Regions from separate parts of the Homo sapiens genome. Here region 2 is linked to region 1. Evidence: fine-mapped expression QTL. Tissue or cell type: whole blood. Region 1 holds a variant in brackets; the other region holds the start of a gene. All regions are shown on one strand. Distances are between the middles of the regions.

The links. PIP is the estimated chance that this variant, and not a neighbour inherited with it, causes the effect.
Region 2: it holds the start of ATP8A1, and the variant in region 1 is fine-mapped to the expression of ATP8A1 in whole blood (INTERVAL, PIP above 0.99).

What each region holds. Positions count from the first base shown.
Region 1 is chr4:42,627,173-42,643,269 of GRCh38, forward strand. All of the region lies in intron 1 of ATP8A1 (ATPase phospholipid transporting 8A1), which reads right to left. Among named protein-coding and RNA genes, the nearest start is that of ATP8A1, 22 kb to the right of the region's middle. RefSeq lists enhancers at 9,114-9,163, 11,739-11,788, 12,019-12,138, 14,805-14,854. The variant A/G (reference allele first, on the strand shown) is at 8,522.
Region 2 is chr4:42,648,356-42,664,452 of GRCh38, forward strand. ATP8A1 (ATPase phospholipid transporting 8A1) reads right to left here and starts at 8,750. Exons shown (of 37, transcript NM_006095.2): 1 at 8,470-8,750. The coding sequence starts at 8,518. ATP8A1-DT (ATP8A1 divergent transcript) reads left to right here and starts at 9,168. Exons shown (of 1, transcript NR_186688.1): 1 at 9,168-9,992. RefSeq lists enhancers at 7,937-7,986, 8,977-9,186 and a silencer at 8,477-8,946.

The sequences.
Region 1 (16,097 bases):
ATAACTAGTCTAGAATATGAAATCTGTTAAAAGCTACTTGCTTCCCCTTAACTGTTGTTTCTTTTATAATAAAAAGTAACATCCCCATATTTAACATTTCTACTAGATTTAAAGGGCAGCATTTAACAGTCATGTAAAAACTGAGCCATATCAAAAACAAGACATAACATCAACTTTCCATTTCCCCCGTAAGTGTTCAACTTCTTTCCTTCCACTATATAAAAAGATGCCCAGAAGTAAACCTTAATTTTAAACTGGTTTAAATTACAGTTTTAGGTAAAACTAACAAGGTAATTTAAAATATAGTCAAAAATTAAAGCATATGCATTTAATACTTTTCTGGGTTTTTTCCCAGATGAAGACAGAAGAAAAGATAAATAGTAAGGTTTAAATAGAGAACTGCAACAATGATCCAACTCACTATCATCACCTATTTTTTTCTCCAGTTAGAATTCATGTTCACAAACGAACTTTAAATTTCTCAAGAGCACTTCAAGTCATCTCATAATCATTGAAACAACAGGATACATTCAACTGGGTACTTTGTTGCAATGTTGACAAACACTTTAAAAAATACATACAAGTTCTAGAACAGAATATCAACAGATAGTATTTTAAACAGCTTTTTGTGTCTTCTAGTGAAAAATCAAAGGGGTGACAACAGTACTGTATCTCCAAAACCCATTTTTCTTCTCTTTTCTGCCTAGCCAATGCCAACTCCTCCCATAAGACCTGCTGACATGTGGTTTCTTCTGAAGTGTTCTATGATGTTCAAGTTAGGTAAAACGTCTTTGGGTTTCCACAGCCCTCTGAACCTCCCCACTCTTCAGCAAAACACTTACCAGAAGGTTTTGTTGCTGCCTGAGTCAGGTTCCCCCTACCAGAATGGGAACTCCCTAGGGCCATAGAGGGTGTGTTATTCATCTTCTCAACACCAGTGCCAACAAACAGCAGGTACCCAATGTTTGCCGAATACATATACCCAATGAAAAATGAGTGGTTGACTGTTTTTTGGGGGCAAGAAAAGCTGCTCCACCCACTGATGAAAAAACAACTGTTGGCCAAGTGCTGGTAACAACTATGTGAAAAGCTGGCCTGTGGGGTTTGTTATAGTATGAAACCAGAAAATCACTGAGGTGTTCTACAAAGGTGAGAAGCATGAGCACAGGGACTGGGGTGTGAGAAACGGTGTCATGTGTGCAGGGGAGAGCAAACAGGGCAGTGCTGCTGGAGCACAGACAGAAGGCGGACGAGAAACCACGCTGAGGAAGCACGCAGGCCAGGTCCCAGAGGACCCTGCGCTCTGCTTGGCAGCCAACCACTGAAAGCTTTCCAAGTAGGAGGGGCACAGGGTGAGAGGCACATTGTATCCTTATCACCCTGGAGGTCACATGGCTCCGAGTAGATTCTGTCACACCCATTTTGCAGTTTCAGACCCAATCAGCAGCTTTGCTCACAGTGTTTCCCTACACCATGTTCTAAACACATACTTTTCCCTCTAGTTTTGTATAATTGAAATTTCACACATGGGTTATTGAATAGAGGGAGATCAATCTTTAAAAAAAATTGAGTCCTTTATTAGGTCTTCCTTCGTGGTAGCATGAAGACCAGAGTGTGCTGTTCCCCGCCTCTGGATTAGAGAGAGAGCCTCAAAAAAACCAGCTCTTCACTCCACTCTGAGCTGATGTTCTCAGGTTGTGTTGTATTTACTTTATATAATGGACTTTTGAGTGTTGTATCTACTTTATGTAATGGGACTTTTGAGGGCCCCGCCCTTGGATGTCCTTAGCTGAGGAACTGGGTGTTACTCCATCCAGACACACCTACTTACATTGAGGTCTCAAACGCTGCTGGGAGAGCACTGGATATTGCTATCCACTGAAAGCAATTGGATACTGCATCTCCCCCTCAGATATTAACTTGTATTCAAGAATTTCTGTGGGGCAAAGGATTTTCCTTGAACTAAAGGGACTGGAATTAACCCCATCCCTTATGTGGGAATCAGAGTAATTAAAACAATCCTAATGGATTAGTAGGGGCCCAACCTAGGTCAGATAATAAGGGATCTTTAAAGAGAAAACTCACCAAAATGAAGGGGAAAATCTAAACTGTAAACTGTTGCCAGGGGTAGGACCATCGAAGAGACTGGATGGCTCTGAGCACAGGATTTCACAGACAACATAGGCTTTCTTTACCCAGGCATTACAGAAAAGCTTTGGAAAGATATTGTACATGAAGCTGAATGTATGCAGAACGCTTCGCTCTGTTGTGCCCTGACCAGGTGTGATACTGAGGAAGGGAGATCTGCACTGAAAGCAGGGAGTGAGGCTCTCAGCCAGTGGAGCTGGTAGGCACCTCTCCCCTGTCTCCTCAGCAGTGACATGGAGAGCCATCAGGCACCTGAAGCCCACTCCCAGAATGTTTGAAGGCCAGAGATTGCAGGTATCACCTTCTGTTATGTATCCAATTCTGTTTACTCCTAGCAGGTGACAGCAAGCTAGCAGTAAACAGGCACAGCAACCTCAGAGGTTCTCAGAAATATCTCAGTGAACATACTTGACCTCAGAGATCCTCAGGAATATTCTGATGAAGGTACCTGGGAAAAAGACTAGCATTTTTGCTAATTTGGAAGTGAGAGTTTGTAACCATTATAATTAAACTCTTCAATGCAATCATCTTACATTGCAGAAATGGGCAACTTAGGTCTGGACTTAACGTAAGTAACCTGTCAATCCAGACTCTTTCCATGTAAAGAGAAACGGACTCTTCCATTTGATTAATGAACCAACACTTTGAGGAAGGTAGGTAGCAATTTTGATCTCACAGCTCTGGGTTAAAGGTGAAAACACATTTGCTACATTCAAAATTGAAAGTTATTCAATATGCACCAGATAATTCTATTTTATGATTTCATTTTTTTATTTCCTCTGCATATCACCACCTTCATCAGCTATAATAACCACATAAAGAGCTACATGTGCATACCTGGGCAATGCCTAAGCTGAGCTATTAGAATGGTGACAAAGGCAATCAAAATAGGAGAATCCTTTACCACCCTGCCCCAAAGAGGGTCAAACTAAGATGGTATTCCTTCTTATACATGGAGTTCTATTCCTCGTTTTAAGGAAGGAACCCATGTCCCTTGCTGTTTAATAATTTAGAGGGTTCGTTCACATAAGTCATTAAAATTTACTAGTAGCTTTTAATCCACCTGTCTGAACTCCTAAGGACTACTGAAAACTCTGACGCTTTTATGTCATCCCCTCACAGAAAGCAAGGGGAAGGCGAGTGCCGTTCTTGATCTGGTAACAGTTCTGAGTCTTCCTGGTAGGTCAGGCCTTCAGAAGCCTTCTTTGTCTGTAAAGTCATGCTAAAGGTGAACTTTACTGAGAGAAAGAAACGCATCTTAATCATGCTCTTTGGTATCTCTCTCAGCTTTTCCTAGCACAATCTTGTGCAAAGAGGACATACAATACTCACCTATTTAACGGAAATGGACTTCAAGACATTCAACAGACTGCTTCTGAGATCCACTCAGTGCCCCACCCATTTTCTCTGGGTTCAGACTGAACTCTGAAGCCCACCATGCAATGGGTTTGAACTCCGTATTAAGTATAGTCGAATGAACAGTATTTGGTAAATGGCAAAGCCAAGAATAAAACATGACCTTAGATAGTTACTTACTTTCACTAGGCTTCAGTTTCCTAATCTGTCAAAGAGAAGTATTCTGTGTTCATGTCCTGGAATAGTTGGTAGTAAATGAAGGAATATGTATGCAATGTACTTAAAACACCTAATATTGTAATAGATTACAATACATGTAATTTGTATTACAATAAATGTAATAGATATTGTAAATGTCTATTATACTTAAAGAGCTAACAGGGTGAATAATGATACAGTCATAGGCTGAGCCTCATAAAAATGGGAGGCGGCTTCTGGGTTAGAGGTTGAAGAATGTTTTGGGGTGGTAATTCTCTACCTTGTGGTGTAACTGACAATTCACCTGCTTCCCTTGTTACATGGTAAGTTACCTATTATACCTCTGGTTCATAGTAAGCCCTCAAAGCCTGATGAATTAACAAGTGAGCAAAACCAGATTAGTAATATACTAGAAACAGATCTCTTTCAAGTAGACATATGTTGCCCAAGCCTGTAGGACTGATGTCCAAACAACAATTAGTAAATTTATGATGAGAAGTAATTGCCACAGGAACTAGAGTAACTGAAGTTCCATAATCAATTCAACTCTCCCAGATTGGCCTGTGTAGAAGTTAAATGACCAAAGTAACCCACCCACCAGTGGTTAGGTGAACTGAGACTCTCATAGCATTAGGGAAGTACAGCCTGATGCAACCAATCCTGCTAAAGGGGTAGATGCATCTGTAGGACCAACCTCTTAAAAGTTTGTTGCAATATCTTGACAATGAGGCCATGATACTTCAAGTCTGTTGGCTAATGCTTCTATTCCCTTCTGCAGAGCTGAGAAGAGTGCTGATAATGTTTAACCCCATGACTTACCCCTTCCTTGACCATCTCCATACCCATTTCCACCTTCGAACACAAATTGATATTTAATCTTCCAATGGGATTACCAAATCCTGTAGGCCTAGGAACCAATCTAGCCCCCTTGCAGGTGACTTTGCTCCTGTATATGTTAGTCTTAGAAAGAAACGAGAAGGTATACTCAATTCGCAAATTTCCAAGTTGTTGGAGACATCTCAAAATGGCCCACAAGTACAGACACACAAAGTAAATGATGATAGTAACACCAGATATATGCGCCTTCCTCACATTTTCGATTCTCCAAGAGACTAACTCAGGCATTCACCCCAATGTCCTTGGTGCTCAGACATTTGACATCCACTAATGGCATTATTAGTCTTCTTAAATTAAGTTTCACAGAGCAAATTGGCAGGCAAATTCATACACCTATCACTTTGAGGAATGGAACTGAGCAAGGATCCTTTTCTATGTATGAAAGCACATTTGTATAGCAGCTTCTGGGAAATCTTAGCTTCTTTCAACATTGTGTTCTCCAAGGTCTGTAACTTCTTAAAAACGGTCAGAATCAAACCAGTTCCCAGAAAAATGAATCTGGTCTAGCTTTTATTGAAATGAGCAAGGAAAAGACTTTTCCTTATTTATGCCAAATAATGTCTGTAATATTCTGCTTGATTCCTATTCCCCCTGCCAGCAGAAAAGCAATTTTGTTTTCTGAATTGTGGTTTATCTCAAGCAATAATAAAATTATCCAGTATTTGCTATGCATATTTTAAACCAGAGACTCTAAGAGGCCAAATTTTGCATTCTTGGTCGTAAAATGGCCAAATGCTATTTCTAAACTTCAGAAGGACCAAGAATTTCAGTATAGGGAATAGTCACATGTAACTTTTAACTACTGAATATGTTAATAAGATTACTTTGTATTACCAAATAAAAATATACAAGCAACATCCTTCTGGTGACTATTTTAGCTTCCAGCAATAATTTTATTTGTCAAGAAAACAAAGGATGCTGGTGGGTCACTATCCTAATTATGACTCTGAAGTGAGCAAGTGCTCATCTTCCCCGAACAGTGTTTCATCACTTAACCCACTTAGGGGCTGTGAGGTGAGCTCAAGTTCTTCTACCAATTACCCACATGACCCTGCACAAACCACTTCATCCCTGGGGGTTATTCTCTTCCTTTGTAAAATGGGGAAGCCAGGCTAGGCTAATAATCTGACAGTTACTCTCAGCTCTAAAATTCTGTGAAATTAATATCTGCTGAGCAGCAGGCAGAAAAGAAATCAATAGTTTTGTTCAGAAGAGCAGGAAAATTCTGAAAAACAAAGTAAAAAAAATTTCCCTTCTTGAGCCTTTATTGAGATGTTTCACAGCAACAGTTGCCTTCCTTAATCTGCAGCCAAAACTCAGTCACGAAGTGAAATGGTGCTTTGTGATGGTAACTCAACATCCATATTTGAAAAGCTAAGCAGTGACTATAATCAGTTGCCAACAACTACCTGGCACCTACTGATCAGTGACTACTGGGTTGCTGAGAATGACGACACAGAGTCTTCCTTTCTTCATCTGCCCAGATTCATCATCACATGCTTATATGCACACAGTACAATGTAACAGAGGAAAATGCTCAATAGTATAAGTGAAAGGCTTCTGACCTGCTCATATGAGAGAAGTATCATTTCTGAAATATTCCATTTTTCATCCGAAATATCATGATCTAATAAGACCTGTTGTTCATTCATTTGCTTATTCATTCATTCAACATACTTAAGAATCTACTATGTTTTGGGCATTTTAAAAATGTTATAGAAATAGCAGGAAATAAGATAAGGTCCTCTTTCTCAGGGACTTATTTTCTAGAGAAGAAAAAGATAATTACAGAACATGGTAAGAATGAGGAAGAAAATAAACAAGTGATTGTAGAACAATTGACAGAAGTCTCTGTGCTTAAGTTTCATTATGCATATAATAGAACTAATAACAGTATCTTACCTCAAAGGGTGGTTGTAAGGACCCAGCGAGTAAATATGAGAACAATGCCTGGCACGTAGTAAGAGTTTAGTAATGAATGTGAGCTATTTTCATTGTTGTTGTTATCACTGCTAGTGATGCTACTATAGCTGCTGCTATTTTACACTGAATGGTCAGAGAAGACGTCTCAAGGAGATGCTGAGTTGAGACCTTGATGACACATAAAGGAAGATAAGGGACAGTTGTCAACCCAAAAGGGGGAATAGCAGGAAAAGCCCTGGAGGGGAGAATGAGCTTGGCATTTCCAGGAACATGAGGGCCACTAACAGTAAACAGAGCATAAAACAAAAAGAAGCAGGGCCAGATTGGGAGAATAACAGCCTGAATTTATATTCTTTATGCAGTAGGAATTCACTGACAGGTTTAAGTAGAAAGACCATTTCGAGGACACTGTGATAATCCAGGTAAAAGATGATGAGTCCTGGGTTAGACTGGTGACAGAGATGAAAGGAAGTGGATGCATACATTATACTCTGGAGGCAGAGCTGGCATGAGCCATATAACCTCTTCATGATTGCATGATGCTCCATAGTACTACTGCCTGGTGCTACTCCACGCAAAAGCCCAAGACATGAAAGAAATGTAGGATTTTTAAAAATCTGACCCATAATGTTTTATTTTGATCACATGCTAAATTTACAATATTTTGGATGTGTTGGGTTACATGTATTGTTCAAATTAATTTTGCCCATTACTTTATTGTAGGATTGTAAATACAACAAATAATTAACCACTTAATGAATAGAATTCTCTTTACAGCCAAACAACCCTAATCCTTAGATACCATGCATCCTTTTTCTCATTATTACATGGTAATCAATAATGTTTAAAATACAGAATATAATCAAGGAGGGCATTAAAGAATCATGCCTAAGAATGAGAGAGACTGTTTAGGTCTACCAGTTATGAGCTCTGGTTACTTTAGACAAGATAATTAACCTTTAGCTACCTACGCTCTTACAAGAGTTTGTGGGGATTACATGAAATAATGCATGTGTAAAGTGCCTGGCTCCTCATGCATATGCAAAAATTCTAGCTATTATTTTTATTATGAAATCAGAAAGGCATACTATGGGAGAAAATAAATAGGCTATGTAGTCAGATGTATGTTCAAATTCAGATTATAACACTTCTACATGGGCAAATTATTTTATCATCTGAGTCTCAGCTTCCTCATCCATAAAATATGGTTAATGTGAGGATGACATTATGTTAGCAATGTAGCACAATACTTGTCATTCAAACAGTTCCCGTCACCCTATCCTCCCCACAGATTAATCTCGCCTTCAAAATACTTGATACGGGAAAACTAAAAGTCTTAAAGACTGTAATGTAGGTATTAACATTTACTTATTTTGGATAATATTTATAGTTGTGACCAGTGTAAATCAATATAGACAGCAAAATAATAAATTTTGCCATATAATTTGGTCAATTAATATTGAGTACTTTTTTTTTTAACAAAATTGTCATCTGTATGGGGTTATGCAACAGAAATGCAGGGGTGGTAGGTAGGAGGGAGACAAGAACAAGATACAAAATCACTGTTGCCTGGTAATACGGTTATAGAACCACTAAGTTTTTTGCAGACTCAACTTTATTGCAATTATAAGTAAGGCTGTAATTGGAATCAGAATATCTATTATATTATTTCCTAAACATATTTAGGAGAGTGCAATTATATAACCTTTCACTCAATGGTTTCCAATATTAGGCATTAAAGGGACCATATTAGCTGCTCAAGTTTCTTGACTTAGGTTGGGGTCATTAAACAAGCAGTCATGCTTGCAACAGTCAAAGAATCTAATAAAAGAATATTAACAGGGAAACTAGACAGAGACTTTACAAGCACAACTGCAGAACTTAGGTGTGATTAAAGTTAGGTACTACTAAGATGGAATTATTAGCATTAACCACTATCCTTTTCAAAGGCTTAATAATTGAAAGTCCTGAATATATATATGCACACATATGTATTTGT[A/G]TATATTGTTTTGATACAGAAGCTTAAGAATATATACATACACACATATATACATATATATACACACACACACACACACACACACACACATATATATATATATATATATATATATATACACATGTATGTATGTATGTAAGCTTCTTAAGCAGGTGCAGCAGCTCCTGGAAGCACATGAAAAGCTTACAGAAAGGTTGAGGAAGATCTAAGGCAGCTTGACTAATGGAATCAGTTCAAGATACCACAGATTCAGTCCTCTCTGTGTTCAGCCTTTTCATCTCTCCAGATGGCAAATTGACTGTGATTGGCTTAGCATGGGCCATGTGCTTACTTTTAAGTCAAAGAGGGGCATGGTAACTTGATGGAGCAGTCCCCTAAGACTATGGGGGAAGGGGGAGTTCTCCAAAGGAAAGCAATGGGCTTAATACACACACACACACACACACACACACACACACACACACGCACACACACACACATAAGCTTCTTAAGCTGGATCAAAACAATTCTTGGCTGAATAATTAAGATGTTTGTATTTACTTTGTTTTTAGTGGTATCTTAGTACAGATAGTTCATTTAATTATAAATGCAGAAGCAATTACTGCAGTGACAAAAGAGGCTTGAAATCCCATGTTCTGCATTGTTAGAGCAGAACAGTCACTTCAAATGTTCGATTGTGAGCCTGACAGCAGCTGTTCAGAGACGGGTAGGGGGAGAGAGAGAGAGAGAGCTCATGAAAAGAAGGAACCACTACTCTGGAAACAATAAACTGGGTGCTTCAAAGGTAAAGACTTACAAACCACATTTTCAAATATGGCACTGAAGAAATCAAACACCCTTAAAAGCATGGAAATTAAAATGGAAACTATTTAGCAATACCTCTCAAATTTCTAGATCATGACAACAGTAGCCAGAGGAAAAATGGAATTTTCAGTTGCATTAATACACCATCCCTGTACCGAGTGTTAATGCAGACTCTGTGCAGTGGACAATCTGCTCTTTCCAGCTCGGCATCTGCTTCTCCTGGAAACAGCCCATTGCTTTCCTTTGGAGAACCCCTCCCCCAGAGTCTTAGGGGACTGCTCCATCAAGGCTCCATGCTCCTCATTGACTTAAAAGTCAGCACACAGTCCAGGCTAAGCCAGTCAGTCAATTTGCCATCTGGAGAGATGAAAAGGCTGAACACAGACAGGAATGAATCTGTGGTATTAGTCAAGCTGCCTTAGATCCTCCTCAACCTTTCTCTAAGCGTTTCATGTGATTCCAGGAGCTACTCCACCCGCTTAAAGGATATGCTCAGCCTATATATTATGGAGTCTTGACAGAATCATTTCAGTCCTCTGTTGGAAGCCAAGTCCTGTCCCAACACCCATCTAATGTAGGTGGGCAGTGATGCCCTACCCAGACTGGCTAGCCTTCTACAAGAAGCTAAGCCCTGTTCCCTGTACCTCAACCGCTAGCTGGCTTTTCTGATCAACATGGAATGATGACCTGGAACCACAGTGCAATTTTCCTGCTTAAGAATAAGCAGGCTACCTGGAACCTTCCCCAACAGGCCCTACTTGCTGGATCAGATCTCTTCTGATGTTAACAGCTGCCCTAAACAAGCTCTGAGTCCAGCACGTTCTGGGACAACTGTGGATTGCAACTCTAAGGAACTTGCACAATAGCCAAACGGTTTTCCACATCCCTACCTTCTTCTCCATCACCCTCTTGTTCATGCAACTGTGATGCTAGCTCATTACCTCCAAGTCCATCTGAGTTATAACAAACATTACATACCCTTGATCATGTAAAACATGGTTATCTCCTTCAACAATTGATAGCTTTTCATTATACAAAAGGGTTCACTTTTTAAAAGAGTTCTAAAAATGAAGATTAGGAGACATCACTTGTCATATGGAGACTTGCTCAAGGTTAGAGAGTCACTGAGCACCAAAGGCAAGACAACATTTGGAAACTGATAAAGTCCAACCCATATCTAAAGCTCTGACACTGATAGATAGATTCATGCATTCATTCAACAATTAAATTTGACCTCACCTCTCCCTTTAACTCTGTCCTTTGCTGGTCTATTACACCTCAACAGTATTTCCAGTTCAGACATTTCTCTACCCCTTCAGCCTTGTTGGATGCTACTTAAGTGTCAAAATACTCTCCTTGGCCATTCTTCTTTGAAGGGATACCTACAAAAGTTTTGAATATATTGTCTATGTAAAAGACCATCATACATCTGACACTAATCTTTTGAGCTATATGCTTAGTTCAATAATAATAAATGCTATGCATGCTTATGTACAGAGGATGGGACAGGCACAAGGGTATGGGTAAGTATCTATTAAGTATGCTACTCTAATATGGGGAAGTAACATGAATGACCCTTCAGGAAAGTCCCTTCTGTGCACTAAATGTTTGCTAAATTTTCTATTTCAATATAAGGCATCCAAAAATTCCCAGAAATTTATAGTCTTGTCTCTATCCTAATAACCACTAATATATTTTGTCATCAGGACCTGTCATTAGGAGACATGGTAAATGACATGTTTCTTTAAGTGCCTTTGAGGGAATTGATTTAAAAATAAACAAGTGTAAAACACACCACAGCAGTTATTGTCTAAAAAAGGAAAAAAAGTAATGGCTTAACATTTCTTGAACTCACGCTAAATTGCGACAAGCCCCTGAAGTAGCACTACAAATTCTAAGTGGTGGATTCTAAAGAGTACTCCTGACATTCAGAAGAAAGGATATCCTTAAGCAGTATTACAAGGAAATCTATAGTATGCCTAGAGTTGGGCGTCACACATAGTAAACAGTCAATCTTGTTGGCAGCCAGCCTTGGATATTAACCTAAAATAATAGTCATCTTCGGCATGCTGAATTGCTTGGAAATAATAAAACATTTACTAACGCCATTTCATGCTTAACTGGAAAAGGAACCAGAACAATGAAAGACAGAAGGAATTTAATGACATCTCCTTGGGAATAACCCACAGATAACTTTATCTGACAGAAGAATTAAATAGTATATTTGCCAACATAGATGTTTAAAAATTGACACAGAAGCAGACTGCACCAGAAACGAGGGGTTGCAACCACCAGACATCTACCAAGCATCTCCTAGAAGTCTCAATTAGCTTAAAGCACCACTGACTTGCAGTGGCATTAAGTTCACCTCTAAAAATGCACAGGAAACAAGGCAGACTGACACTACGGACTGGATTCTAATCCAAGCAAAAGTGGTAAAGTAGTAATGATACTCTTCAAAAAATAACTGTATCAAAGAGTTTTTGACTGTCAAAGGGGAATACCAGGCCATGTCAGATATGTATTCTGGATTTCAGGAGGGCACATTTCAATTTATTATCAAGACCCACAAAGTGCAGAAGCCCCAACAGCTGTCCAAACCCACATGCTGAGTAATTGTGGAAGGCCCTGACAAGGCGGGGAGGTGGTCAGGGAGGGTTGAAGGAGTTGTATTTAGAGACCACTGCTGCTTCACAGGAAGTACTTGAACAAGCACAAGATTAAAAAAAGATCACAGGAAAGGTTGAAAATAGATAGGTTCACATGTTCAACAGTGAATATTAACAGATGCACAGACATCTGAGACTGGAGGAAAGGTGTTGTAAAAAACGTTAGAGACCACTCGATTTTTCCCCCTTTCATCTGGGACACAAAGAATTGATGAGATGAGCCTGCTGCCTAGAATAGATGATACAATGTTGTTAACAGATAATAAAAGGCAGAACTTCTCAGCTCCAACATCTACTTTGCTTCAATCGTCTATCAAGGATAATCATCTTAAGACTGGAAAGGTTAGAATGAACATTAGTTCGAAGAACTAAACCAAAAGACAAGGTAGGGGATTATTTTAAGAGGGAAAAAAAGAAAAATCAGCACCTAACTGCTCTAAATGAATTCCTAGCCTATAGTAAATACATATATGTATGTGTAGGTATATATAATTATTTTCTAACCTACAGAACTGTGAGAACCTGCAAAATAGTTAAGTGAACTGTTACTAATCAGAGAAGAACTATGGTGAATGAGAGAGGAACTAAAAGATGAAGACAATTTAGTCATCGTTCAGTATGCATGGGGGATTGGTTCCAAGACCCCTTACCAAATCTGCAGATGCTCAATTACCTTATATAAAGTGATGTAGTATTTCAAATAACCTACACACATCCTCTTGTATATTTTAAATCATCTCTCGATTACTTATAATACCTAACACAATGCCTACACGTCATTTGCATGGATTCAACATAGTACTTGGTGTGTGGCAAATTGAAGTTTTGCTTTTTGAAACTCTATGGAATTTTTTCTGAATACTTTTGATCCATGATTGGCTGAATCCATGGACGTGAAACTCAGGGATAAGGAGGGCCACCTGCACTCTCCCAGTGTTCTAAAAAGAAGATGGATCATAAAGATCATAAACCACTGTTTTTTAAAATGGGAGTCTACAGATGTGCTTTCAAAGTTCACAGATTTACAAAATGAGATCCACTGCTTCTAAAGGATTTTTGGGAAAGATCTGAAAATTCAGAAGTTAAAAGAACATTTCTGAGAATTCAGTTAAACATGGAACTGAGCTTAATTATTTTGAAAGCAGTGTTTCTCATACAAAGAATATATTCTCAAAGACCAAAAAGAAATGTTTCCTCTAAAAAAGGTCCTTTACATTAGATAAGTCTGAATAATAATGCTATTGGCCAATGAGTTTGAGGCCAATGCTAGTCAAACATTAAGTGCAGCTGATTAACAGACTGCTTAAAAGGGAGGTGGTGACTGGTGGGGATCAGTAAGCCTCCACTGACTAAATCCCTTTTCTTTCTTTTCAAAAATAGAACCCTCAGCATCTGGATTTCAAGAAGGCTTTTGTGTAGGCCCTATTGTTATAAATGAAGACACACGATTCCATGATTATGAAACAATGTGGATTCACAACTATGTAGCTGACAAACATACATGGAGGGGTCTCACATACTAAAGCTATTCTTTGGCCATCCCTGCCTGTGAGCCCTTCTGAAAGAGCCTCCCCTGGGTCACCCTTGGACTCGGTCTCTCCTTCCATCTCCTGGCCTGGCCTAGTACCTGAGCCCTAGGTGTCAGGGTCAACATGGAGCACCTGACCAGCCAGGCCAGTCAGATCCCTTTTAGAGAATGTGGATTTGTGGTCAGTCAACTCAGCACCAAGTAAGGAACATCACGGACAGGTGGGCTGGAGGGAGCATCATGGCACTCTGAAGCCACATGCATGCCAAAGTTAGGAAGTGAAGGAGCAGACGTACAGAGACTTCCCCCTCACCAGAAAAAAAAAAAAAAAAAAGAACAATGAACCTCTGCTGTGATACAAGAGGATCCCTTACAGTAAATGCCTAACTTGGTAAGGGCTCTGGGTGCAGACTGCCTGGGTTCCAATGACAGGATAAGGACACATGACACGATTAATCAATGTACAGATGACATGAAAAAAATCAGAATTCTAGAAGATTTTGAAAGGCTGAATAAGTTGAAGGTTCTATACTAAAGGCCTAAAGAAGCAACTGTGTAAATACAATATGGGAGACACCTGACCCAGCAAGGCATGTAGAGCATAAATGTTTTTACTGCTTTTATTGCTTTCTTATCAAGAAAAAATCTGAGGTGTCTGAGAATGGAATGGGCTGTCTTAAAAGGGTGTGTGTGGGTGTGTTCCCTTCACTGTGAGGTATTCAAGCCATATCAGTTACTGTGTTGCATTAAATGACTTCTAAGTTCCCTTCCAACTCTAGAATCCAAGGATTCTATCCTTTTAAATTTCTTTTTTTTTTTTAAGACAACTATAAGCTTATTGAGAGAACCACTGATACAGTGCAGGGCGCAAGTTTTCCGCATTTTGTACATGGAAAAGAGTATTATTAAATTAGTTACTACAAATGCTTGTAGGATAGTTAACCCCATTGACTTCAGTAGCAGTGTGTTCATAGGAAGATAGAACTGAATTACAGCTCTGAATGAGCTAGGCCTTAAAAAGTACTGGGGAAAAAAATGAATGAACAATGATGAAAGTTATCTGAATCATTACAACTTTAACTTTTAGAGCTATTTACACATTTTATAACATACAAACAGGTAGATATATGATTAGTTCCAACAGACTAGTCCTCGTTTTATTACAAGAAGCAGAAACACCCAAATAACATCATTATGCTGCTACATTAATCTCAGAATGAGTCAGTGGAGTTTAACTGGCACCTGCTTCTTATCTCCATTGTGACTTTGCAAGAGAGGAAAACAACTCACCTTTGTTTTTTTTTTTAAACAAAGTCTCAATCATCAAAAACATCCAGTGAAGAAACTAAAGTCTTCCTGCCCATTACAACTTTGGTAGGGACATCAGTATAGCACACACAGCAACATACACTGTCCACAAACAAGACAAGTGTTTTATCCTACAGAAACAGACATTACCCAGGATAAGGAAAGTGTGACACTCTCATCTGCCTGTTGATAACACAATGCCACAACCAGGTTTGCCAAATATCCAACAAATCCATTAAACAAAGCTAGAAAAAGAGGAAACCCACAAAAGAGCATCCAAGAACTCCAGCACACCCTAACGAGACTCTGAGAATGGGTGTGGCTCTGGGATGGCTCATCTACCACAAGCACTGTGGGCAGTACTGAAGAACCCACTAAGACTGGTCAGATGAGACTGGCTCAAAAAGCCAAGAATCATTTTCACAAAACAAAGTAAGGAATGGTCGGCATCCTTCAGTTTGTCAGGATGTAGCTAAAGAAGACGACAGAAACCTCCACTAAACAGATTAAGATAGGATGTGTGAATGACAGCTGGTGGGCTGCAAAGACTGAAAAGACCCAGCACATTGCTCAGTGACATTAAAGCAATGACACCTACACATGTGTGAGATTGCCGCACGCCCTACTCAATCCACAGGTAGAACAAAAACGATGCGAGGGTGGATGAAACAAATGCTTCAAGAACCTTCTAATGCCATAAATAAAAATCACTCCATGCAGTAAGTACCTCCTAATGCAACATTTTACCTCAAGATGCTACTACTACTAATTAGAATCATGAAATTAGCTCCCTAGACCTGCTGGTATACCGTGACCACTGCCATGCAAGGTGTGATGGGCATACAGATGAATATAAGAAAACTCCACGAAGACTTCAAAACCACTCCAGCGTTTTTAAAAGTTCAGTTTCCAAAATCTGAACAGCCTGATCTTATCCCAGTCACTCACCAGATGCAGATTCAAAAAACATTTGCTTAGCACCTACTTTATAGTAAGTGCTTTCATTTAATATATCCACTCTGGAAAATGTCCCTGCAGTTTGGAGCACCTCAAGAGCCAAAAGAACGCAGTGATCACGTGAAAGACTGTTCTCATCAACTCTGACTGGGCAGCAAAAAGTCCTGGCAATGTAATTATCGATCCCAAACAGAATAAATCCATACAGTTCCCAGATACCTAAAATTCATAGCAATGGGGAACACGTATTACACTAACAGGTGCATTTACTGAAATTCTAAAGAATATTCAGAGAAAAGAAGATGAGGGA
Region 2 (16,097 bases), 21 kb after region 1:
TGGCGGCGGGTGGGGTGGGGGGAAGGGAAAGAGAGACTGACTCCAGAAAAAAACTCAAATATATACATACGGAAGCACCTCAAATCAGTGTGGGAAGAAAGGATTATTAAATATATGGTTATTATGTCAGGTAAATAATTTGAGGAAAAACTTAGATCCAGGCCTCACATTTCACCACAAAGTAAATCACACAGGAATTACTAATATAACTGTTTAAAATGAAACCCAAAAGTACTAAAAGAAAAATATAATTGAAAAATTATCTTGAAAAATATGACATTAAAGCAGAAATTTAAAAAAAGGAAAGATTATACTTCATAAAAATTAATTTACATACATGTTAAAGCACTACAAAGTTAAGATAAACTATGAATAAGGAAAAAAGGTATTATCGTTAACATATAAGTTCTTAAACTTCAATACAAAACTTGATAAACAATTCAGAAAAAAATAATCACTACATTTACCAAAATATGTTAAACCTAATAAAGCAATGTAAACTTAAAGACTTACTTTTTACATTCTATATCCATAAGGAGGAAGAAAAATGCTATACAGTGCTGCAAAAGGGATAAACAGGCACTCTCATTCACTTTCAGTGGGAGTGTAAACCAGTATAATCTTTCTAGCAATTTTCAAATATGTATCAAAAGTCATAAAAAGATATATACTTTTGACCCAGAAATCCCATTTCTAGGGACTTTGAACAAAACCATCAGAAAGGTGTACAAAAAGATACAAAGATGCTTATTCAAGAGTTTAAAAAACTGAAATGACCTAAATGTCCACCCACAGGGTTCTTTAGTAAGTTATTCTGTACTAACATAAAAATGCTAAGCTGTCATAAAATTAATAAAATTGATCTGTTCATTCAACAAAAATTTACTGAGCTGCTACCAAGTGTCAAGCACTATTCCAGGCACTAAGGATATAACTAGTGACAGTAGACAAAATTTACACAAATCTATATTGGCACAGATATCCATAAAATTATTAAAAATAATGCAGATTACCTCATTCTTCCTAACAAATATATCTTTTCTGGAAAATAGTTGGGAAGGACATATACTAAAATTCTAACATTGTAAATATATAAATTTATATGAAGTATATAAAAGTTTATAATCACAATGTGATTATATTTGGATGGCATAGTTTGTGATGAATTTTACTCTCTCCTGCAAGACTTTCTGAAGCATGAGTTTTTCCCAGTAAGCAGGCAGTACTTCTATCAAGACTCATAGTTAAGCTCTTCCATTAAAAACAAAGCTCAGAGTTATCCATTCATTCAACAAATATAGAGTGGTGGCTATGTGGCAGACAAAACTCTAGGTGTAGAGGGTACAGCAGCGAACAAATCTCACAAAAACGCTCCTTTGGGGTGCTAAGGTTTCAGTAGGAGGGTACTAGATTTAGTACATCTAGATTTAGCTCTGAGTATTTTACAAATTGGATTATAAGGCATTTTCATCTTTAGGACATAGATTCATTCATTTAACCAATGCCTACTATGTGCCAGGCAATGTCCTCATGGGGAGCAATATATCAGTGGACAAACCAGACAAAACCCCCTGCCCTTAGGGAGCTTACTACCCGGAGAATACAATCATTGGAAGGTTTGGGCTCCTTTCGCTAAGAAGTAAAGAATGAAGGGGAAAGTGGTGGCCTTCATGTCATTGACATTCCAATGAAACCATGTGAATAGAGACCCACGCAGCAAACATTTCGTTAACTTCAAAAGTGTCCTCTGACCTTTGCAAACATTCCCACAGCTGTAACATTAGGTATATGCTTCAATTCTGTTTTTGAAATGACAGAAAAAACAAACCATGAATTCTGCACTGAAGATAGAAAACCTAAAATAATCAGATCTAATACACTTATATCTCCAGAATTACACTAAGTAAAATGACACCTACTTTGAGATTTTCAAATATTGATGACATGCTGTATCGCTATACTCATACACACCTTCTCACACAGTGCCACTTCAGGTAAAACTGAACTCATCTCCATACTCATCTCCATGTTTCCTTTGGGACCTCCTTCATCGACCACAGCCTTTTGTCCCACCACCCATTTAGCTGGCACACAGCTGGTGCATAATAAGTGGTTTTTAAAGGAACAAAAACCTTAGTCATCTTTTACCTGGAATAGCGTCCTAAAATTTTTCCTTTAAGGACAGCTTAAATTACTTTTTATTCCTTTTGTTACCTTTTATGTAAATAAAACATACTATTCTACATAGTTACAAACATTTTAGAGTTGCCATTTAGAAAAACAATTCCTAAAACAACTTCTGGATACATCGTTTAGCACATATTTTACATAATCAAATAAATGTCATTATATTTTAGCATTATAGTATTCAACAGAAGAAAACACAAACCACTGGATAGGTATGTGAAGTTTTTGTGTGTGTGCATTTCTTTAGTTCTGAACAATTTAATCCTTATTATATGTAAAGTATGAGCTCCAGAGCAGTTTCTATGTTATCCAAGCAAGAGCCTTTGGCAATCTGAGAACTTCACTGTGACTGATTCTGTTGTCTGCCTGATATAGTTTGGCTGTGTCCCCACCCAAATCTCATCTTGAATTGTAAATCCCACAATTCTCACATGTCGTAGAGGAACCCAGTAGGAGGAAACTGAATCATGGGGACAGGTCTTTCCCATGCTGTTCTTGTGATAGTGAATAAGTCTCACAAGATCTGATAGTTTTATAAATGGAAGTTCCCCTGCACAAGCTCTCTCTGCCTGCTGCCATCCATGTAAGATCTGACTTGCTCCTCCTTGCCTTCTGCCATGATTGTGAGACCTCCCCAGCCATGTAAGTCCATTAAACCTCTTTCTTTTGTAAATTGCCCAGTCTCGGTACGTCTTCATCAGGAGCATGAAAACAGACTAATACAGTACATTGGTACCAGAAGAGTGGGGTGCTGCTGAAAAGATACTGAAAATGTGGAAATGACTTTGGAACTGGGTAACAGGCAGAGGTTGAAAAAAGTTTGGAGGGCCCAGAAAGCAGGAAAATGTGGGAAAGTATGGAACTCCCTAGAGACTTGTTGAATGGCTTTGACCCAAAATGCTGATAATGATACAATGAATTCCAAGCTGAGTAGTCTCGGGTATGTCTTTATCAGCAGTGTGAAAATGGACTAATGCACTGCTCAATAACCATACACCCTTTTCCGTTTGTAACACAACACTGGGTAATGTGTCCAGCTGGAAATTTCCATTTCCCAGCTTGCCCTGCAAGTGGAAACCAATGCAAAATAAGCATTAGTTTTTGTGTGGTGCTTTCTGAAAAACCTGTTTGCCTTTCACCCTTCCATTTTCTCCTGGCTAAAACTATTGTACATGATGGCTGGCACCCCAGCAACCATGCTGTGACTTTATGGAAGACAAACTCTCAGGACAGTGAAGCAGAAAGGCACAAGGAGCCAACATCCCTTATGACTTTGTGTAGCAGGCACAGCCAACCCTGTCTACCTCCACACTAGTTTTACAGGAGTGAGAAAAACTATTTTGTGTAAGCTACCATTATTTCAGTCTGTTTCCAGATTTCAAATGCTAAGTTCAAACACCCATTTGATTTATCTGGGGCAGCTAAATAAAGAGACCTAAAATTCTTAGTCTTCTGCTTTATCTACTCTTGCCTTATGGCAAATTTTTCCACTATCAGGGTTTCAACTATTGTCTCTCAAGATTCCCAAGTTTGAGGTTTCCCACATCTCACCTAAAAATTTCCAACTACCTTTAAAACATGTCCATTTGGATGTCCCCGTTACCTCAAAATTTGAATTAGTATCATCTCTTATTTTATTAGTCCTCCTTCCCAATTTCCTTGTTGTTTAATAGATTTTCTCAACCAGTCAAGCTCAAGACTGTAATGGAAATTTCCTCAAAATGTGTTTCACCAGCACCAGGGTATCTTGGGAGGCTCATTAAGAATGCGAATCCCCAAGCCCACCACAGATTTACTCAACTAAATCTTCACAAGCCAGCCCAATAAGATCCCTGATAATTTATGAACCTACTACCAATGTTATTACTAATAAAATATCAATATGCTATTACCAATAAGATCCATGGTAACTTATTAATATTAGAATTCTAAATTATTGTTGAGACTTGCTTTTTTCAAAAAAGTCCTTCTCTCTCCTGCCCTATGTTTACTAAATATTCACTAAATAGCAAAGTCCTATAATATGATTGCTATGATTTGGCTGTGTCCCCACCCAAATCTCATCTTAAATTGTTGCTCCCATAATCCCCAAGTGTTGTGGAAGAGACCTGGTGGGAGGTAACTGAATCATGGGGGCAGGTCTTTCCCGTGCTGTTCTCATGACAGTGAATAAGTCTCACGAGATCTGATAGTTTTATAAAGAGCAGTTCCCCTGCACACGCTCTTTTGCCTTTGCTCCTCCTTCACTTTCCGCCATGACTGTGAGGCCTCCCCAGCCATGTGAAACTGAGTCCATTAAACCTCTTTTTCTTTATAAATTACCCAGTCTTGGGTATGTTTTTATTAGCAGCCTAAGAGCGGACTAACACAATGACCTTTGTGACCTCATTTCCTACTATTCTTCCCCTCACCGTTCCTAATTCCCGATGTGAAACTGAGTCCATTAAACCTCTTTGTCTTTATAAATTACCCAGTCTTGGGTATGTTTTTATTAGCAGCCTAAGAGCGGACTAACACAATGACCTTTGTGACCTCATTTCCTACTATTCTTCCCCTCACCGTTCCTAATTCCCGATTCTCTCCTGCCTTGGGGCATTTGCTCTGGCTGGAACACCCTTCCCCCAGATCCCCACCAGGCCAACTCCCTTATCTCCTTCATGCCAACTTTTCAATGAGGGCTAGTCTAACTAACCTACTTAAAATTGCAATCCATCCACCCACCTTAAACATTTTGCTTTCTCTTCATTTTCCCCATTTGCCACACAACAAATTCTATAATTAGCATATTTTGTGTGTGTTTTGTCTCCTGCCTCACTAGAAAGTAAGCACCTCCAGGGCCATGCTTTTCCTCTTCTGTTAACTGATGTATCCCAAGTGCCTGTAACAGTAGTTGAAGTTCAGTAGACATCTGCTGAATGAGTTAATGATTCAGTCAGAAATCTGATTCCTCCCTTCCCATTCTCACTGTTCCACTCTAATACTAATTCTGACTTTTGTCATTTTAAGACTGTTTTGCAAAAGAGTCTATCTACCATACCTTTTCCTCCAAACCAGCCAACACACTTCCAGACTTAACTAAGTTACTACTTTTAGGATGTCCCTCCCTTATAACGATGTGGCCCCCAACTGGCCCTGTTAGATATTATATATTGGAGTTAGGCTTAAATAAGAAATTAGATTCAATGAACTCTAAGAACCTGTTCAAATATTCGGTCCTGTGTCCAAATGACTCACCTTGGCATTTAAAATGCTTTGTAATCTGGCAGTAATCTACCTATCCAAACTTTTAGCCTGCTCCTTCCAAGTTTCCCTCTGCTCCCGGCCAATTTCCTTAAGAACTCTGAAATAAGCCATGTTCACTTTCCCCATTTGTTCTTGTTATGACTGTCTTCAACACTCTCCTAACTACAGAAATAGATGTCAGTATCCTTTAGGATCCTGCTGCTCAGACTGTGATCTGCAGGCCAGCATCCTTCAGCATTACATTCTTGTCAGAAATGTAGTAACTCTGGCCCCACTCCAGACCTCCTGAATCAGACTCTGCGTTTAACAAGATCCTCAGGTGATTCCTATGAACCTTCGAGTTTGAGAAGCACTGTGTGAGGGCTCATCTCAAATCACACCTCAATGAAATGTTCACTCAGCAGGCCTTATGTTCAGTAATAAGTATGTACTAAATTCCTAATCTTCCACAGGTCCTGCGTCCCCCACAGCATGCACAATATTTAATTAACAACATCCCCTCTTAGACTATTTATTCCCTCTTTAAGTCCTTTCTCCCCAGTTTGGTTGTAAACAACTTACAGGCATGACAGTCATACATCTGGCCAATCTGGATGAAGGGAACAGAAACCCATTCAAGTCATTTCAAGGGGGGGAAAAGAGCTTATTTTAATGCTACTTGGGAACTAGGGCTATAAAATTCGGGAGGGCAGGCTCCAAGGTCTCGCCACCCTCTCTCAGGATCTGTGTCTGCCCATCCATTCCATTTTCTTTGCTATCTCTCTACTCACTCATAGTTTCTGCTTTCTTCTATCAGCAGCATTCCCATGACTTATTATGGCCACCCATTCTCTCCCATACCAGCCTATTCACCTCTGCTCCCTTCTGCTTTTACTCTAAATCTCTAACTTTAATGTTTTCAAGAGAGATATGATTAACACAGAGACTCTTTTTGAGCCAAACCACAAGGTTACAAGTGTCTGAGTCACATAAGAATTGGTTGACCCTGGGTCAGGAGCCAACCATAGTCCAATCAGCTGAGGCCAAAAAGGCTGCAGTTCAGAACAAGGCCCTCTAGGCAGCAGGGCCTCTCTCAAAGGAGAATATTCCTTAGGAAAGGTAGGACTATATTTTTTAGGAAAGAAATATTTCCTAGGAAAGAAAAGTGTGGGCAGAGCAGGCAATGAGCCACAACGCCAGCCCCACAGAGTCATTATTTGTCTTCACCACAGTCCCAAGCACATGCTGAAGCTATAATAAACTGGAATCAACTAATCTCAGGGGAAAGGGTCATTCACTCACCAAGCACCACTATGGCCCTGACACTGTGCTGGACGCACAGGGAATACAAAGATTAAACAAGCAGCAGTCCTTGTTTTCCCAGAGCTCTTAATCCAAATGTGTCACTGAACTAGTTACTTGACCTTGGGCAAATTACTAAACCATATGGGCCACAGTTTCCTCAACTATCAGATGGCACTCCACCTTCACCAACCTCCAGGAGTGTTGTAAGTTTCCATAAAGTAATCTTTGTAAAAGTACTTTGGAAAATACACAAGCCAATCAAGAACAATACTGCAGCCCTGTAATCCCCTCACATGCCACAGGTTTTGCAGTGCTCTCAGACTTTTTCTCTTCCCCTTATTTCCCACAATATAGGACCCATCAATTGCTATTATTTAAAAGAACACCACCAACTATTACCATTCTACTTTCACTATCTCTATGACTAATTTCACTCAGAAGTGTAAAAAAAATGAATTTTTACAGTGTGCATTTTAAAAGTATAATGTATTCAACTGTGTATGTAAAACTATAATGCCCTATATAAGTATTTTTTGGGTATTACAAATGACAGCATGTACCGAATTCCTATGTAGTACACAGGCCAGTTTTGAATCTTGCTTCGTCTTCTCCCCACAGCAGTTTCATTTAATATTTCCTAAATACTGCAATCAGAAAATTTCAGGGACCCTATTTTTACAGGGAGCCCCTAAGGAGAAAAAATGGCCTGTCTCCATCCCTGAAATCCAATTCTCCTAACTTATATATTTTTCTAAAACCACTTCACCACCTGTCTCACATTAAAAGATGGAGGTGGGGAGGAAGAGTGGGAATCAGCGATGATGGCAAGATAGATTTCTGAAAAACATGTTATTCCACCCTCTGCAGGATTCAAGTACAGGTTTATGGGAGAGGACAAACAAACCTTGGGATATTTACAGTCTTGGCTTTGACGCGAGCAAAATCAAATAATATTTACAGAGTGCCTGCCACATGGCAGGCAGGATGTTGAGGGCTCCTCGGAGACGATGAAGAGTCTGGGCCCTCGGAAAGCTTACTTGCTTCTACCCCGGAGCATCTGTTGCTCAGTGTTGACAACCATGGCCATTCAAGAGCTGGCCCCAGGTGGAGCAAAGAAAACAGCTTCCACCTGGCTGAAAAGTCAGCTCAGCTGGCCGAAGTGAGGGTTTCGGGCAAAAGGGAAACACAAAAACGAAACCTCAGACGCGAGCCGGTGGGACTCCGCTGCAGGAGGCAGAATTGCAGAAGCTGTAATGCAGGGAACCCACTCGGCACCCGACCCCGATGAAGGCTCCCCGCGCTTCGAGAGCCAAGGGACTACGGATCAAAGGATCCTGCAGCCGGGGAAAAGCAAACTCGCTTCGCTGGGAGCTCAGATAGGGGGTTGCAAAACGGTGGGCGCCGGAGGCAGGGGCGGCGGGCTGGGGATCTGCTGAGTGGAAATCGAACTGGTGGGGAGGGAGGTGGGCAGGGCGAGTGAGCTCAGTGACTGGGACCTAATGGTCACACTGCGGTGCAAAGCACGCCTCGGGGCTCCCGCGGAGAACACCCATTCGAGGGTACTGGAGCCTGGAAAGGGTCTGCGAGTACACTGGGGGCAGCGCGGGGGGAAGGGTCCCCTAGGGGCCGGGCGCGACAGTCGGACTGCCGCCGGGGAAGAGGTAGGATGCGGTCTCTTCCAGGATAAACACACACGCTCACACACACACTCGCTTCCCGACCCCGGGCTAGCCCCGAGCCTCGGCGGCCCCTTACCTTCGGCGCGCGAGCGGATCTCCGACACGGTCCTCCGCATGGTGGGCATCGCGGCGGCGGCTGCAGGTGGGTCCTCAGCCCGGACTCTGCACCTGTCACGGCGTGGTACACGCGGGAGACCCGGCTGCGCCGCGCAGAGCGCTCAGCTGCAGCCTGGGCCGCGCCGCCGCCCACCTAGGGCAGAGCTGCCGCCGGGCGCGGCCCCCGCACGCCGACAGGAGGAGGAGAAAGGCAGCGGTGGCGGCGAAGGTGGCGGCGCCCGCAGAGCTGGGCGAGCTCTTGCTGCAGCCGCGGAGGGGCGGCTCGGCGAGGGGCGGAGCTCGGGCGCCGGCGCCGGGGGAGGGGCCTGCGGGGCTCGCGCTCCCCCTCCCGCGGCCGCTCAGCAAGGAAGGCGGGTGAGGGGCGGGGAGAGCCAGGGGGAGCCTCCTTCGCCCCGCCCCGCCCCGCTTCGGACCGTATCACGACTCAAAGGGGGGATCAACTCTTAGCCTCCTTAGTCCTCCAGCGTTTTCGCTCCGCCCTGTGGAGTTGGTTGACCCGGTTCCTCCTCCAGGCCACTCGGACTCTCTCACATCTTGCTCAGAAAGGAAAGACTGCTCTGGCTGCTGCATTCTCACGAATCCCCTCCCGCTACCCCTGGCTTTTGATCGCAGTGGAGCCGCCCGTCGTCCGGAAAGAGCTGTTGGGTCTGAGCCGGCAGGCGAAGGCGAAAGGGTCTGGGACTACAAGGTTTAGCTCCCAGCCAGAGCAGGAAAGGAACGACTGACTGTTCGCCATCTGGGTGTAATTCTAACCTCTCTGCACGCCCAGCCCGACTCGTGGCCTGAGCCGCACTTGTCCTCCTGCCTCGCCCACTAGCAACAGGCTGCCAGGTCGGGAGGCCCCTGGTGCCCATGGTGCTCTTGTCCATGGGGCTTGGGTGCATCTGGGCCCCGCCTGCAAGTGGGCCCGGTGCATCTCCCTAGTTCAGGCTCTGCAGCCTGACAAGGCACTGAAATAGCAATTAAGCCAACTAAGTATTGGCCCAGGTGGTTCACAAAAGACTTTTTTTTTTTCTTTTAGTTAAATCTGCATAAAGTTGGATGCAGTCGTTTTATCTGCAAAGGGGAGAGGAGTCTTTGTATAAAATCCATAAATATGTTAAATTTTAATTTGCCGATGTCCTTCAGACTATCATAGCCTCATTACCTTTTATTTTGTATACCGAGATCTATGCTAAAAAGTTGTCAAAACAAATACTTCACCTTCAAGTTAAGATGTAAGGTTTTGTGCTGTTTCTGGCGAGCTGCTGAACTGGCAGGAAAGGAATAAACCAGAAACAATAAATCAGAAGCAATTTGCTTCTTCCCTCATTTCATGCTCTTCCTCCAGCAACCAGCGAAAGAGATCCTCACATAGAGGCCTTTTATTTGAGATCTTTTCACATCCTGAAGGGAGAGAGCTGGAGAGGTTTGACCTGAGAGAGAAGTGATTATTTCCAAGCCTCAGGAAAAAATGAAATAAAATCTGCTAATAGCGTCCTATCTCCATTTGTGGTATTTCTTCTGCTTCCTGCAGGTAGCACTTGCTAATCAGAGCCCTGCCCTACATTAATACTCAGGCAGTCAATGCATATTTATGAAGAGCCCACTCTAGTTGGCTCTGATTCAGAGGCTGGAATTAGAACAAAGAAAATGTATTCTCAGTGTTCATGGAACATCTCAGGGTAAAGCAGGACTCAACAATAAATGAATCTATCTGTTTCAGTGATAGTCATGATTTAAAGTATGGTCTTCTAAACGTAAAAAATGAACACAGCTTTATCTGGACTGTCATCACTGGGCATTTTTATTTCTTCCAAGGCCCAGGGTCTCCTTGTATAAAGCAGGCTTGCTCTGGCTTAATGAACATGAGTCTGAAACAAAATTAAAGGGCTAACATAGCAAGGAAAATAGTAAAAATAATAATCAGCTTTAAAAGTTAGCGAACAGAAACTGGAGGAAATGCAGTGCTTTTCTGATTAACATTTTAGGTGTAATTCTATATGAAGCCATAACCAGTTCTTATTAAAAATCAGTGCGCAGCAGCATGACGATAGTTCATTTATGAGCAATCACCTTTGTAATTCCTAATTAGTCCTCAGATGGGGTTGAGGTTCAATTCTGCTTATTTACAAGTAATAACTGAAGGAACTCCAGAAGTTACCTCTGTTTTGTATAGAGCAATCCATTTTTTACATGTGTGTCCCATTAACTCATCAGCAAAGTTGAAAACGTCATTGATACAGGAAACAAGTCACTTATACAGAGAAGAATATTGCATGATATAGTCTATAGATTACCGTGTGTCCTTTCCCTGATATTATCACTTTATCCATAATGGCAAGCGTATCCCAACTACCTTATTTCTTAAAAACCACTCATTCCTGACTGCTAGAAATCACACATTTTTATTGGTTCAGAACTTGATTGAAGTTGAGGATTGCATTAATCTGCATCTGCTTGATTTTAAGGCTCTCAGATCGTCTCACCTTCTATTGTGTGAGAAGTGCAATGTGCCAGCCCCTGGCAGGGAACTCCGGTTCCAGCCACATGACTTTGTCACGGAATCTGTAGTAGAATTCAGATGTCAGCAAGATCATTTAAAATCTTTCAGGTCATATGACTATACTGCTGATAGACTTAGAAGGAAGAGGGTTATTTAAGGACAACTTCCCTAAGATCCAGGTTTTATCCTCCACAAAATGTACATTGAATACGTAACACGTGTGAGGTGCTGAGCCAGAGAACTAGGTTATAGAGGCACTTAATGAAAGCTAAACAGCAGTAGCAACAAGATGGCTAATATGTCATGCCAAATAGACAAGCAGCAACTATGGACTTTGAGAGAAAGCTAAGTTTCTAAGAGCTAGGGTGATCAACATTGTTGAGCTAGATCTTAAAGTAGGGGTTAATTCTATAGAAATAAAAAGGAGACCTCTTTCTAGTGGGAATGCTTGGTAGTCATTGTTTAATGAATGTTTAAGGTCAGTGGAGTGATAGAGGAGCATATATATTTGGCAGGAACAAAGAGACTGACTTGACTACAGTAAAGGTTTTTCACTGGGAATCCATGTATGGAGACTAAAGGTGCCAGATTTGGGAGAGTCTGCAATGTCATCTTAGGATACTTTTGTTTCCTAATGAGCCTTCTAAATGAATGATGCTAGGAATCCCAATATGCCCACTTTTAAGCGTTTGTGGGTTTTTTTTTGACATTTTTCCCTTGAATTTTGCCACAAATTTTCCTCAACTTTACTAAGTAAATTATGTTCTAATATAATGAACATTGAGTGGCAGATGTTCATTACATTCCCAATAACTGTGCCATGTAGGACTAAATGGGAAAACATGTCCTTAGCTTTCTCTTTGAATTAGGATGGCTGTTTTAAGTCATTAGAGAAAATAAAGTATGTGTAAATACGTCTACTCTGTTCTACTGTCACAGCAGGGTGTGGACATCAATGGAACTTCATTGGCCTACAGACTCAGGTTTAAACTTCATTCAAATCAGAGGTGACTGTCAGGTACCCAGAGTTGGGTAAATGATAGTTGAAATTACAAAGGAAAAAAATACAATAAAAGAACTAAGAGGATGTCACTACTGGAACTAAACAGATTGGAAATCAAGTTTTCATGCCAAGAAAATTAAATAGGAGAAAGAATAGTCTTTTCAACAAAGGATGTTGGGACAACTGGATATCCACATGCCAAAGAAAAAAGTTGGACCCCTGCCTTGTATCATACACAAAAACTAACTCAAAATGGATCAAACACCCAAAATGTAAAAGTTAAATTATCTATAAAACTCTTCAGAGAAAAATAGTAAATATTTATTAACTTAGATAATAGTTTCTTACATATGGCATCAAAAGCACAAACAACAAAAGAAAAAATAGATAAATTGCACATCATCAAATTAAAAACTTTTGTCTGGGCACAGTGGCTCATGCCTGTAATCCCAGCACTTTGGAGGCCCAGGTGGGTGGATCACTTGAGGTCAGGAGTTCGAGACCAGCCTGGCCAACATGGTGAAACCCCATCTCTACTAAAAATACAAAAATTAGCTGGGCGTGGTGGTGGGTGCCTGTAATCCCAGCTACCTGGGAGGCTGAGGCAGGAGAATCGCTTGAACCCAGGAAGCAGAGGTTGTAGTGAGCTGAAATCGTGCCACTGCACTCCAGTCTGGGTGACAGAGCGAGACTTTGTCTCAAAAACAAACAAACAAACAAAAAAACAAAACCAAACTTTTGTGCTTCCAAATACATCATTAAGAAATTGTAAAATAACCCACAGAATGGGAGAAAACTTTTGTAAACCATATAGCTGATTAGCGACTTGTACCTAGATTATATTAAAAACGATTATGAGGCTTGGTGACATGGCTCTTGCCTGTAATCCCAGCAATTTGGGAGGCCAAGTAAGGAGGATCATTTAATCCCAAAAGTTCTAAACCAGCCTGAGCAATGTTGAGACCTTGTCTCTACAAATAATTAAAACATTAGCCAGGCGTGATGGTGCACGCCTATGGCCCCAGCTATTTGGAGGCTGAGGTGGGAGAATCACTTGGGCTGGGGTGGTCGAGGCTGCAGGGAGCTAAGCCATGATCACGCCACTGCACTCCAGCTTGGGAGACAAAGCAGGAACCCATCTCAAGAAAAAAAAAGAACTATTATGATTCACTAATAAAAAGACAACCCAATTTAAAAATGAGCAATGAGCAGAGGATCTGGATAGTTATTTCTCCAAAGCAGATATGCAAATGGCCTATAAACTCATAAAAAGATGCTCAATGTCATTAGCTATTAGGGAAGCGCAAATCAAAAACCTGAGATACCACTTCATACTCAGTAGAATGGCTATGATCAAAAAGATAGATAATTTTGTGTTGGAGAGAATGTAGAGAAGTTGTAGCACTCATATACTGCTGGTGGAATGTAAATGGTGAAGTTGCTTTAGAAAATAGTCTGGCAATTCATTAAATGTTAAACATGGAGTTACCATATGGTCTAGCAATTACACTTTTAGGTATACACCTAAGAGAAAAGTAGATGTCCACACAGAAATTTATACACAAATGTTACATTATTCATAATAGCCAAAAAGGGGAAATAATGCAAATGTCCCTCAAGTGATAAATAAAATGTGGTATATTCATACCATGGTATATTCTGCAATAAAAAGTAATAAAATAACACATGCTATAACATGGATGACTTTGAAAACATGCTAAGTGAAAGAACCAGTTACAAAAGCTCACATATTGTATGATTCCAATTATATGACATGTCCAGAATAGGCAAATCTACACAAACAAAAAGATTAATGGTTGCTGAGGGATGGGGGGTGGAATGGGAGCACTGGGAGATGACAGCTGATGCAGAGTTTCTTTTTAGGGTAATAAAAAATATTGTGATGGATGCACAATTCTGTAAATATACTAATGGATTATATTAAGGTGAATTGTATGTTATGTGAATTATATCTTAATAAAGCTGTTAAAAATTTTTTAAAATTAAATCTCCAAAGGCATCAGCCAAAAAATGACCAAGTCCAGAAAATCCAAAAGAGATATCAGAGGATATTCCTATCTTGGGAGGAATTGCACTTATTAATTACTTGATATTACCTGGTTTGTCATTGTCTGGGACCCCCAAAATTATGAATTGGTCCCCTTTGGGAGAAACTTATAGTCAAGTAGGTGAGAAAAGCTTGCTCACTAATTTGTTAACTCACAATGCAGCTGGAGGTGCTTTGGAAACTCATGTCCTGGGGGTTGTTGGAGACATGGCTGAGAACCCTGCTTGTGATTGAGATTGAGGCATGGAAAGTGGATTACCACACAACCATACAATACATACACTAAGCAGTGCTGGCCACTATACTTCCAATTCTTTTGCAGAAGCACTAAAGAAACGGGTAAATTAATCTTAAGTTTTACATAATTAACATCTTTTAGTTTAACATTTAGGTTGAGATGTAAAATTCTATCTAATAGCAAAGCTGCCTGGTTATTCCAAGTGAAGATTAGGCTTTGGTATCTATAATCATGGGTGTTATATATTAATTTAATGCATAGTGTATGGTTAAAGTATCATTATACTGTTAGACTTGTAAGGGACTTTCTTTGCCCCAGCCTTCTTCATTTTGATTGCTTACTTTGTGTCACCACCTTTATATGCACAACCCTCCAATACACGAGCGAGATGTTTAGGCTCTGTTCCCAGAATGTACCTTCATTCTATGCACATTACTTTATCTCTACCTCTACCACCTGTGTACAAGTCACCATCATCGCTTGCCTGCCATACTTTCTAACTGGTCGCCCTGCTTCTATGCCTGTCTTCCATTCGTCTCACGGGAGCCACCATTATTATTATTGCTTTAAAACACAAACTGGTTCATGTTATTTCTTAAGACTCTTTGGTAGCTTCCCATGGCACTCAGGAAGAAAACCAAATCTTTATGATCCTGCCCTTGCTTGTTTCTCAGACTCAGCTTCTCTAGCCCCTCATTCGTCCACAGGGCTCAGATGATTCCAGCCTACTCCAGCTAATATTGCCCCACTATCCCCAATGCTAGACACTGCCACATTGCCTTATTCTATTTTTCTCATAGTACTTATCACTATGTGGAGTTTTCTTATTTGTTTGTTTACCTGTTTATGATAAATAGTTCTCGCTGCGTTTGTCTTGCTAATTGCAATTTGTTCAACCTTAACAACAGTGTCTGTCATACAGTCCAGGATTCATACATAGTTGTTGAATGAATGAATGTAAATGAACTGGATCCCTCAGATTGGAAACTGGAAATGAGTAGAAGGATAGGTAGTGTTCCATCTGAAGAGATAATAAGTTATGTCCTTCATAAGTATGTTTATTGGGGTATATTATTTTGTGAGAATTATTTGCATGAAATAATTTAGAACATATTTGCTTTGGAGTATTTGATATCAGCAAAACCTTGTGCCACAAAAATTAATGTCAAAATTAAGTGATCAAATTTTAAATATAAACCAATTTCAACCAAAAGTTCTAAATTTGCTGTCATTGAATAATTTAGTCACTTATTCTTACTCATAATGATAAAATCAATACTTTTCCCTCACAACTATGATTCATTTCTCATACCTGTAGTACTACTGTCTTTTCAAACACCTTAGCAAGGTCTTAATACAAAGTTATAGTGTCTTTAATGTTATTATCTTCTGCATATACTGGGTATTTCCAACAAAAAAGTACAACAATGTTTTCTTCAATATAATTGAAAATATTCTGCTCCTGTTTAAATGAAACTAGAGTTTCAAAATGCAGTTTTGTATTATATGAAAGAACTCTTGAAAGAAATTTTTAAAGAATTAGTATCTCCAGGATATTTAAAATCAGGTTCAACTCACACACAATCTTTTGGGAAAAACACTTATTGAGTATTTTATTCAAAAAGTAAATGCACATTCAAAGGGAAATGATCTGCTGTATCATAATATCTAGTGTTGGATCTTACATTCAATAGCGTTATTTCAAACAGATGAAAAGAGATTAATTAAATTATTTTTTTTTTACTTTAAAAGTTTCCTGCATATCAGAGCCAAGATGTGAAAAATTCATACTT